Linked DNA regions of Homo sapiens. The protein of the gene in region 2 interacts with the protein of the main gene of each other region in a pairwise test. Each region holds a gene or a part of one and is shown on either strand. Other genes may lie near its edges.

The links.
Region 1: the proteins of CIMIP1 (region 2) and KRTAP3-1 interact in binary tests that used the Homo sapiens proteins (3 or more experiments, as listed by UniProt).
Region 3: the proteins of CIMIP1 (region 2) and KRTAP19-6 interact in binary tests that used the Homo sapiens proteins (3 or more experiments, as listed by UniProt).

Annotation. Positions count from the first base shown.
Region 1 is NC_000017.11:41,007,969-41,010,739, reverse strand, and holds KRTAP3-1 (keratin-associated protein 3-1), read left to right. Parts: upstream 1-1,611; 5' UTR 1,612-1,665; coding exon 1,666-1,962; 3' UTR 1,963-2,219; downstream 2,220-2,771. UniProt on the Homo sapiens protein: In the hair cortex, hair keratin intermediate filaments are embedded in an interfilamentous matrix, consisting of hair keratin-associated proteins (KRTAP), which are essential for the formation of a rigid and resistant hair shaft through their extensive disulfide bond cross-linking with abundant cysteine residues of hair keratins.
Region 2 is NC_000020.11:58,153,821-58,157,483, forward strand, and holds part of CIMIP1 (ciliary microtubule inner protein 1), read left to right. Parts: intron 1-1,647; coding exon 1,648-1,749; intron 1,750-2,877; exon of another isoform or gene 2,878-3,009; intron 3,010-3,663.
Region 3 is NC_000021.9:30,541,023-30,543,515, reverse strand, and holds KRTAP19-6 (keratin-associated protein 19-6), read left to right. Parts: upstream 1-1,651; 5' UTR 1,652-1,682; coding exon 1,683-1,859; 3' UTR 1,860-1,981; downstream 1,982-2,493. UniProt on the Homo sapiens protein: In the hair cortex, hair keratin intermediate filaments are embedded in an interfilamentous matrix, consisting of hair keratin-associated proteins (KRTAP), which are essential for the formation of a rigid and resistant hair shaft through their extensive disulfide bond cross-linking with abundant cysteine residues of hair keratins.

The DNA.
Region 1 (2,771 bases), on a different chromosome or scaffold from region 2:
CAAAATCATTCCAATAAGAAAATGGCTAAAAAGAAAGCAGTTTCATGCTAAGCATTTTTTTAATCCAACATCTTGTTGATTTGCATCTCATTTGGCTTCTGATTCCTCTGCATTGTGCAATTTTCTACTTTAGAACTTGAGCCATCTTATCTGAAAAAATGGGTCAAGAAAATATGTACATGTTTTTAAGCCTTTCTAAGTAAGCCATTTCTAAAGGTTTTACCAGTTTAGTATTTTTCATATTCTAAAGTAATTCTAAATCATCATACTAAATTTTCTACCTTTATCTACTTTTAAAACTTTATTTTTAGAGTTTTAGTGGTTTAGATGAAACTCGGAAATGTCTCTATTCTGGACCACAGAGCCTGGAAGTAAGACAGGGGTGTTCAATGTTTTGGCTTCCCTGGGCCACATTGAAAGAAGAATTGTCTTGGGCCACACATAAAATACACTAACACTAATGACAGCTGATGAGCAAAAAAAGAAAAAAAATCACAAAAAAATCTCATAATGTTTTAAGAAAGTTTATGAATTTGTGTTGTGCTGCATTCAATGCCTTTCTGGGCCACAGGTTGAACAAGCTTGCTGTAAGATGTTGCTAAATCTCCCCAAGTATGTTTCATAAAGCACTGACCTATAGAGCTAATCTCTGAAAACAAACAAAAAGCAGTCCATGGTCAAGTAAGTTTGGAGAAAAATATATGCTATATCTCTGTATTGAAAAGTCATAGAGCATTTTAGCACATTAAAGGCTCCGAGAGGCCCAACAATGAAGAATTCAGCATTTCCCAAACTTACTTACCAGAAAACACTTTCAAGTCCCTTGGAACCAGTGTTCATGGAACTCAGTCTGGTAAATACTGCATCATTTAGCTTCTGAATGGCCCAATACAACCAGCCTTTTGGTTATAAATAATCTCCATTTATAACACAGTTGGATGGAGCTTAAAGGACACCCATCTTTGTCACCCATGAAGGTCTTCATTCCCACCTGCATGTTCTTACCAAGTTATTGTTCAGAGCATATTTGAAAGGAATGCAGAACAAACGATTTGTTATAGCTCTGTTTGAAAGTGCCTCTTTACACAAAACCAAAATCTATTTCTCTATAGATTCTATCCATTCATCTTCATTCAGTTTATTGGAGCCACAAATAATAAATCTAAAATGTTATATCACTTTTTCAGCCTGAGGGCCTAAAGGATCACATAGAACCTGTAGTCACTGGTAGAACAGCAAACAAAAAGCTTACTTGTCCTCTTCATCTGAAAAGTAAACAAAAGAAGTGGGAAACGTTTGCAGATGCCTGGCATACCGAGCCATTATTAGTGAGGGTATAATGATTAGAAGATAATGGCCCGGTACCTTTGAAGACTGGAATGAAGATTTCTGTGTAGTGACACACTGGCAATGTGAATAGTCCTAATTTGACAACAAAACAACCTAAATCTCTTTTATGAGGTGAGCAGTGTATCTTAGGTAATAAACACTTAAGTAATTAGGCATTTTTTATGGAAATAACTATAAACTGAAACATGGGGGAAAAACCCTCAGTAATAGGCTGACGCCCAGGGAGATGGGTATATAAGAGCCAGAGCAGAAGAGAGGAGCATCGAGACACCAACAGACTTCTCTCAACTCAACAAAAACCCACCTCCCATTGCCATGTATTGCTGTGCTCTCCGCTCCTGCAGCGTCCCCACCGGCCCTGCCACCACCTTCTGCTCATTTGATAAAAGCTGCCGCTGTGGAGTCTGCCTACCCAGCACCTGCCCACATGAGATCAGCCTCCTTCAGCCCATCTGCTGTGACACCTGCCCCCCACCCTGCTGCAAGCCTGATACCTATGTGCCAACTTGCTGGCTGCTCAACAACTGTCACCCGACTCCCGGACTGAGTGGGATCAACCTGACCACCTATGTTCAGCCTGGCTGTGAGAGTCCCTGTGAGCCCCGCTGTTAACCAGCCGAGTCTGCACAGGTTCCGTGAGGTGGCTGCCCAATGTCCTCTGCACCATCTGGGCTTCAGCACTCACTACTGCCTACATCAAGGCTAAGGCCATCCCAATCCCCGGGGCCAAGTCTTGATGAATCTTCTTAATTATTTGCACATTTGGGTACCATTGGAGACCTCCCTTCTGTCTTTTAGGCTATTTCATCACTCTTTGAGAAATAACCATTTTGACCATTTGTTAATAAACTTTATTCTGGCTTAGCAAATATGACCTTGTGATTATTTATTTTCATGTCTCCCATTAGGGAAAGTGGAATGCCTACCTAAACCTGAACAGTAGGTTATCACACTATCCAAGATTTACCCCAACAGAATAAGAGCTCTCATAGTGGAATTTATCGAAAAAATAGATACTGGTTATTTGTGATAAGTTAAAAAGTAAAAAATGTGGTAGTTCATTTTATAGAAGCTTTTTATTTAACAGATATTTATTTAATAGATATTATTGGAAGACATCCACTGTGCAAGCACTATGCTAGAGTCTAGAGATTAACAGAATGTTTTAAAAATACTTGATTTTAGTTTCCATTGATTCTGACATTGATTTTTCTTTCTTCCTTAATTGACTAAATGAATTGATCACTGTGCTGGTGTGTATAAATAATTTGATTATCCTAGTCCTCACAGTCATCTGAAATTCTGAGCTCAAAATGCAAAGCAATTTTGAGAAGTGTATATATCCATTTCTTCATATATGCTGTCTTCCAAAACAATCCATTTTTAATTAATGTTAGCATTTATCGAGTATTCATTGATTC
Region 2 (3,663 bases):
TTCGGCAGAACCAGATGATCAAATCTGGACAAGAACCCCGGTGCAGAGACAGGTGTTGTTTTATGCCCATTTACAAATTAGGAAATTGAGCTCCAAGACCTGCAAAGTCACACAACTGATAAGGACCCTACTCAGGTGAGAAGCAGGTGGGTCTGATGCCACAGCCACCTGACCTCAGACTTCCCATCTGTAAAGTGGGATGAGAGTCCTCACCTGCCTAACTGAGCGACTGTGAGGTGCAGATACAAGAAGGCTATGGACACCTCACCTGGCCTGGAGGCCAAGTGACATATGAGGGATTCTTGGGAAAATGCTGTCGGTATTCCCTAAAGATGACAAGTCCAGAAGTCTACAGGGACCAGCTAGGTGACAGAAACAGGAGACAGGGCCAAGCATAATTAATCAGAAGGGGTGGAGACTCAGGCAAAGAGGCCACTGGTCCTGTCCAAAGAGGCAGCCAGCATGAGCCCAGCCAAGTGAAACCATATGGGAAAGCCAACTGCATATTCCCATCACTCAAGAGAGTCCAGAAAGCCAGATGTTTACATGAAATTTTCTGAGTCTAGAAATGAAATGCTTATGTGGGTTCTGGTGGGGTGGTGGCCACCAATCTGCAACCTCTCAAACTTCAGGACAGAACACAAGAGATGCAGAATTAATTAAAACACCACATCAGTCAAAGTATCTATGATTCACAGCAGTGTAAAGCCCATTTGTAATTCATCCCATCCTACGAGCTTTGAAATTATGCTGTTCTTAATGAGGGTGTTTTTAATTCTTAGAGGGTTCCACAGTTTGAAATTTTATGCATAGAATGAGTTCTTATTAATATAATATGCATAAGGAGTCTATATTAATATTCTTTATATGTAATTAAATTGGGTTTTCAAAAAGCTTGATATTGCTTGAAAAATTAAAAAGGGGAGTGGACGCTCTCCTCTAATATTTTAAAGTTCGGTCCTGAAAACTTTTTGGCATTTTTTGTTAGTTTGTTTGTTGTTGTTTGAGACAGGGTCTGGATCTGTCACCCAGGCTGGAGTGCAGTGGCATGATCTCAGCTCACTGCAGCATCCACCTCCAGGCTGAAGCCATCCTGTCACCTTGGCTCCCAAGTAGCTGGGACCACAGGCACATGCCATCATGCCCAGCTAATTTTTGTATTTTTTGAAGAGATGGAGTCTTGCTAAGTTGCCCAGGCTGGTCTTGAACTCCTGAGCTCAAGCAATCCTCCCACCTCGGCCTCCCAAAGTGTTGGGATTACAGGCATGAGCCACCACACTCAACCCTTTTTGGCATTTTAAAACTTGAGTCCGTAACTGGTAACGTTTTCTCAAATTCCCCCACAGGGGATGTAAATCAGGAGGCTGTGGTGAGCAGCAGGAGGGGATGGAGATGGGTCTCAGCTTTGGGTGCAGCAGGCCTGCGTTGAGGTCCCCACCCTACTTTCCTAACGGTGTAACTAAGACAAGCCTCTGCCTCCCATTTCCATGCCCCACTTCTGTGTCTATAAAATGCGCCTTCTAGGGGAAGCAATGGGGAGGACACTCCCCCAGCTTCACCTGAGGCTTCCCGTCTCTGGGGATTCTGTTTCAGTACATTTCCCCCAGCTTCACGTAAGACTTCCCATCTCTGGGGATTCTGTTTCAGTTGATCAAGTGTGAAGAAGATCTCCCCACCCCAAAGCCCAAAATCGAGCTTCCTGAGCGTTTCCGCATCCGGCCGGTGACCCCAGTGGAGAAGTACATCAAGGTTTGAAACGTTTTTAAATACTCATTTTTTTAAAATACTCATTTTCCTAAGTAAGAAATAAGCCCCAGTGGAAACTGATGGCTCCAGATGTGCAAAGCCAGCACTGAAGGTAAGAGCACAGCAGTGCCAGGTGCAGAGTCCAGGTCCACGTCCTTCCCAAACCCAGCCATGGGAAACATGCCAGGCTAAAGTCTACAAGTGCAAGCACCATGACCTCCTGCTCTGCAGAAGCAGAGAGAAGGCAGGAAAATGGGGTCTTCATGCGTTCTTTCAGCAAACATTTCCAGGGTGTGGGCAGGAAGGCAGGGCAGACCCAGGCAGGGACTCTGGAATCAGACCACCAGATCCCTGTGCTGATAGGCTGCTCACCTTCTGTGTGGTCTTGGGCAAGTGGCTTGACCTCTCTGTGTCTCCCCTGCCTGTCTTATACAATGGGGGTTAATGAAGCACCTACTTCAGGGAGTACCCTCAGGGTTCAGCAGGCTGCCCAGCATGTTTAGAGAGTGCCGATGACAGTCAGCTATTACTAAGGTGCAACAGCTTGGTTGGGAAAACAGTAATGAACAAGAAGGCAAGACCCCAGCCCACATGTCTGGGTCTAGAGAACCAACATTAACCAAGAAAATCAACACCATTTGGATACGCTATGCTAGCACCATGGAGGAAACAGGCCGGTGGTGTGTCACAGGATAAGAGAGGGCGGGGTGGTCAGGGAAGGGGCCCTTTGAGCTGAGGACTGAAGGATGACCAGGCACCAGCCCTAGGAAAAGTATTCTAGGCGCAGGGAACAGCATGTATGAAAGCCCTGAGATAGAACACAGGCTGCTATGTTTCAGGAACAGCAAGGCAAGGCGATGCGACAGGAGCTTGGGTGGAGGGTGGGGGCAGGAGGAGAAGGTGTGGGTGGAGAAGGGATGTGAGTGGAAAAGTGGGCAGGCTAGAAGAAGGAGTTGCAATTGGAGTCCAATTTAGAGAAGCCGCTGGAGGGTTGTAAGCAGGGCCATGGAAAGGCAAGACCTGCCTATTGGAAAGATGGCTCTCATTGCTAGTGGAGAAAAGATTGTGGGGAGAGGGACAGGAGTGACCAGGCCAAACCCAGAGAAAAGAGGCCTTAGACGATGCTCTCACCTGAAGCCTGCACCACGGCGGACATGGCTCAGATCCCTCTAGAAACAGTTGAGCTCCATATGTCTCATGGGTCTGTCATTTTGGCTGGGAGTTCTGCCCTCTGCCCAGCTATGGAGAAGGTGGTTCTGCGTGCTGATGGGGAGAGCAGATGAAAACCCAAGATGAAGGCCGCAGGGCAGGAGGAGTTCAGCTGCAGCCTTTTGCCTGGCATGCTCGTGGTCTGATGGGGTAGCTGGCACATAGTGAGCATTTGGGGGGTATGCATCTGTGAGCCCCAATGAATGAATGAATGAATGAGCTCCACTGAGTTATGTTGACAGTTTTTACCCCAAATATAAAGCAATATAGAGTCACTGCTAAAAAATATTTAGAAATACACCAAAATATAATATAATTAAAACCCACATATAGGCTCTTACCCATGATTAACATTTTGGGGGTGCTCCTTCCAGAGGTTTTCCTACACATCCCTTGACCTGTAAGAGTAACCACCCCACCAGCTCAAGCTATTATTATCTCTTAGCCGCTCACCGTGGTGACTGCTTTACATTGGGTGTCTCATCTTACTTCCACTGCAGCCCCGGATATTATCATCCTCAAACCCATTTTGCAGATGGGAAAGCTGAAGCTTAAAAAAGCTGAATTCCTTTCTCTGGCCACACAGCAAGTGTGTCTGATTCCAGAGCCCTGCTTTTAAATGTTACCCTCAAATATTCCTCAAATGTATGTTCATGTATACGTATATACACACTTGTGCACATACACACATACTTTTTAGGTATATGT
Region 3 (2,493 bases), on a different chromosome or scaffold from region 2:
AATTAGTACAACCACTATGGAGAACAGTTTGGAGGTTTCTCAAAAAACAAAGAATGAAGCTACCATATGACACAGAAATCCCACTGCTGGTGCTAAACTCATCTTTAGCATCAAACCTAATCTCTAGTCCCTGACACCATGAGCTACTACAGCAGCTACTATGGAGGCCTGGTATACATCCAAAGGAAGGGAAAACAGTATATCAAAGAGATATGTGCACTCCCATGTTTGTTGCAGCACTGTTCATAATAGCAAAGATTTGGAAGCAACCTAATTTTCCACCAACAGATGAATGGATAAAGAAAATGTGGTATGTATACACAATGGAGTACTAGTCAACCATAAAAAATAATGAGATCCTGTCATTTGCAACAGAATGGATGGAACTGGTCGTCATTATGCTAAGTGAAATAAGTCAGGCACAGAAAAACAAACTTTGTATGTTCTCACTTATTTGTGGGAGCTAAAAATTGAAAACAATTGAACTCATGGAGATAGAGACTAGAAGGATGGTTAACAGAGAATGGAAAGGGGAGTAGGTGGGTGCAGGGTAGGGGTGGGGAGGGATGTGAGTGATGGAGGAGTAGGGGTGGTTAATGGGTACAAAGGAATAGAAATGATGAATAAGACCTAGTATTTGATAGCACAAAAGTGTGGCCATACTAAGTTATACTCTCTTAGTTATTTTAAAATGTATAATTAAATTGCATTTAAATTAAATTATTGATTTAATCGAACATTTTAAAATAAGAGAGTGTAATTGAATTGCTTTAACACAAAGGATAAATGCTTGAGGGGATGGATACCCTATTTATCATTTACCAGTGATTATTACTCCATTAACCAGTGATTAGTATGCATTGTCATGTCTGTATAAAAGTATTTCATATACCCCATAGATATATATACTCTACTATGTATTCTTAAAAATAAAATTTGAAAAAAGAAAAATAATATTTAATGGAACTTCATGGGAAAAGTGTATGCAGAGGAAAAGGTACACTTTTGAAGTTAATGGATGAATAAAAAATTGGGAAGAAGCCTAACAAAAAATTGGCAGAGGAAGCTAATTGAAGGTTTCTCATAGAAATTAAGGCAAGAAAGCTTTACAAAAGAATGAATGGATGGAAGGTTAGCAATGTCAAAGGTCAATTAAAGTTCAAATGAGTCAAAAACCAAGGTTTCCTCTAAATTTGACTACTGGAAATCACTAATGACTTTGTGACTATGCCCTGACTACCATGAAGAGAAGTCCTTGGGTTCTGGGAATGAAGTAACCAAGACGATGGACTGCAAATTAAAAAGAAAAGCAATATGAGGTTATGTAATTACAGCGTTACTGGAAGCTATCAACCCGATTAGACCATTTTAATTACAACACCAGCCTGGCCTTTGAAGTGGCTATAATCATTTTTCATCTTCAAAATATTTTGTTCTTAGGAATGCAAACTAAAGACTAAAAGTCTTTAAATAATAGTTTGGACCCTTTGTTACATAAGAAAAGAAAAAAAATAAACAATTGTTAGACTTAAAATTATTCTGTTATGTGGAAATAAGATCACCTGTCATTGTTGTTCATGACACCCACTACTTAGAGTATAAAATCATTCTGAGAAGTTAGAGACACCTACACTCAGGAAACTCATCATTAGCATTGAACTGAATCTCTAGTCCCTGACACCATGAGATACTATGGCAGCTACTACAGAGGCCTGGGATATGGCTGTGGAGGCTTTGGTGGTCTGGGCTATGGCTGTGGCTGTGGAGGCTACAGATATGGCTCTGGCTATGGAGGCTATAGATATGGCTGCTGCCGCCCATCATGCCGTGAAGGATATGGATTCTCTGGATTCTACTAAAAAACTTGCTGATTCTCATACTCTAACTCCAAGATCTTGCCCGTATGCTTCAGCAAGGCGAACACTTTTCTCAATGTAGAGAAAATACCTACCATTTTTTGGCTTCATGCTCCAGAAGGAACTAGCCATCAGTTTTTATGGAAGAATCTGGAATCATTACATTGAATCAGGGTTTCACCTATTATTATTTAGTCACTGACATCTGTTGTGACATGTATTTTAAAATAGTTTTAAATAAACACGTTTAACTTGAATAGCAAACATGGCTTTATCAATTCATTTTAGTACATTTCAAATGCATTGATGAGACTTCAATCAAGCTGTTTGTCTTCTTTCCTCTGAATTGGTGTTTTTATTTCAACAGTTTTGCCTCAATAATATATTTTATTCAACATATATTCATTGTGTGTCTCCAAATTTGGGCACCATTCTAAGTCCTGAAGATATAAAAGAATAAGATGGACAAAATCACTGTGTACTTTCATCTGTCTTTACTTTTTATCTGTTTTCAGTGGTTTTGTGTGTGATTTTGTTTTTAGAATATGATTATGTACACTATTATTTTTATGACTTAGTTTTAAACAATAACTTATTGCAATCTTCATTCCAATTAGTGTGTTTGTATTCTGAGGTT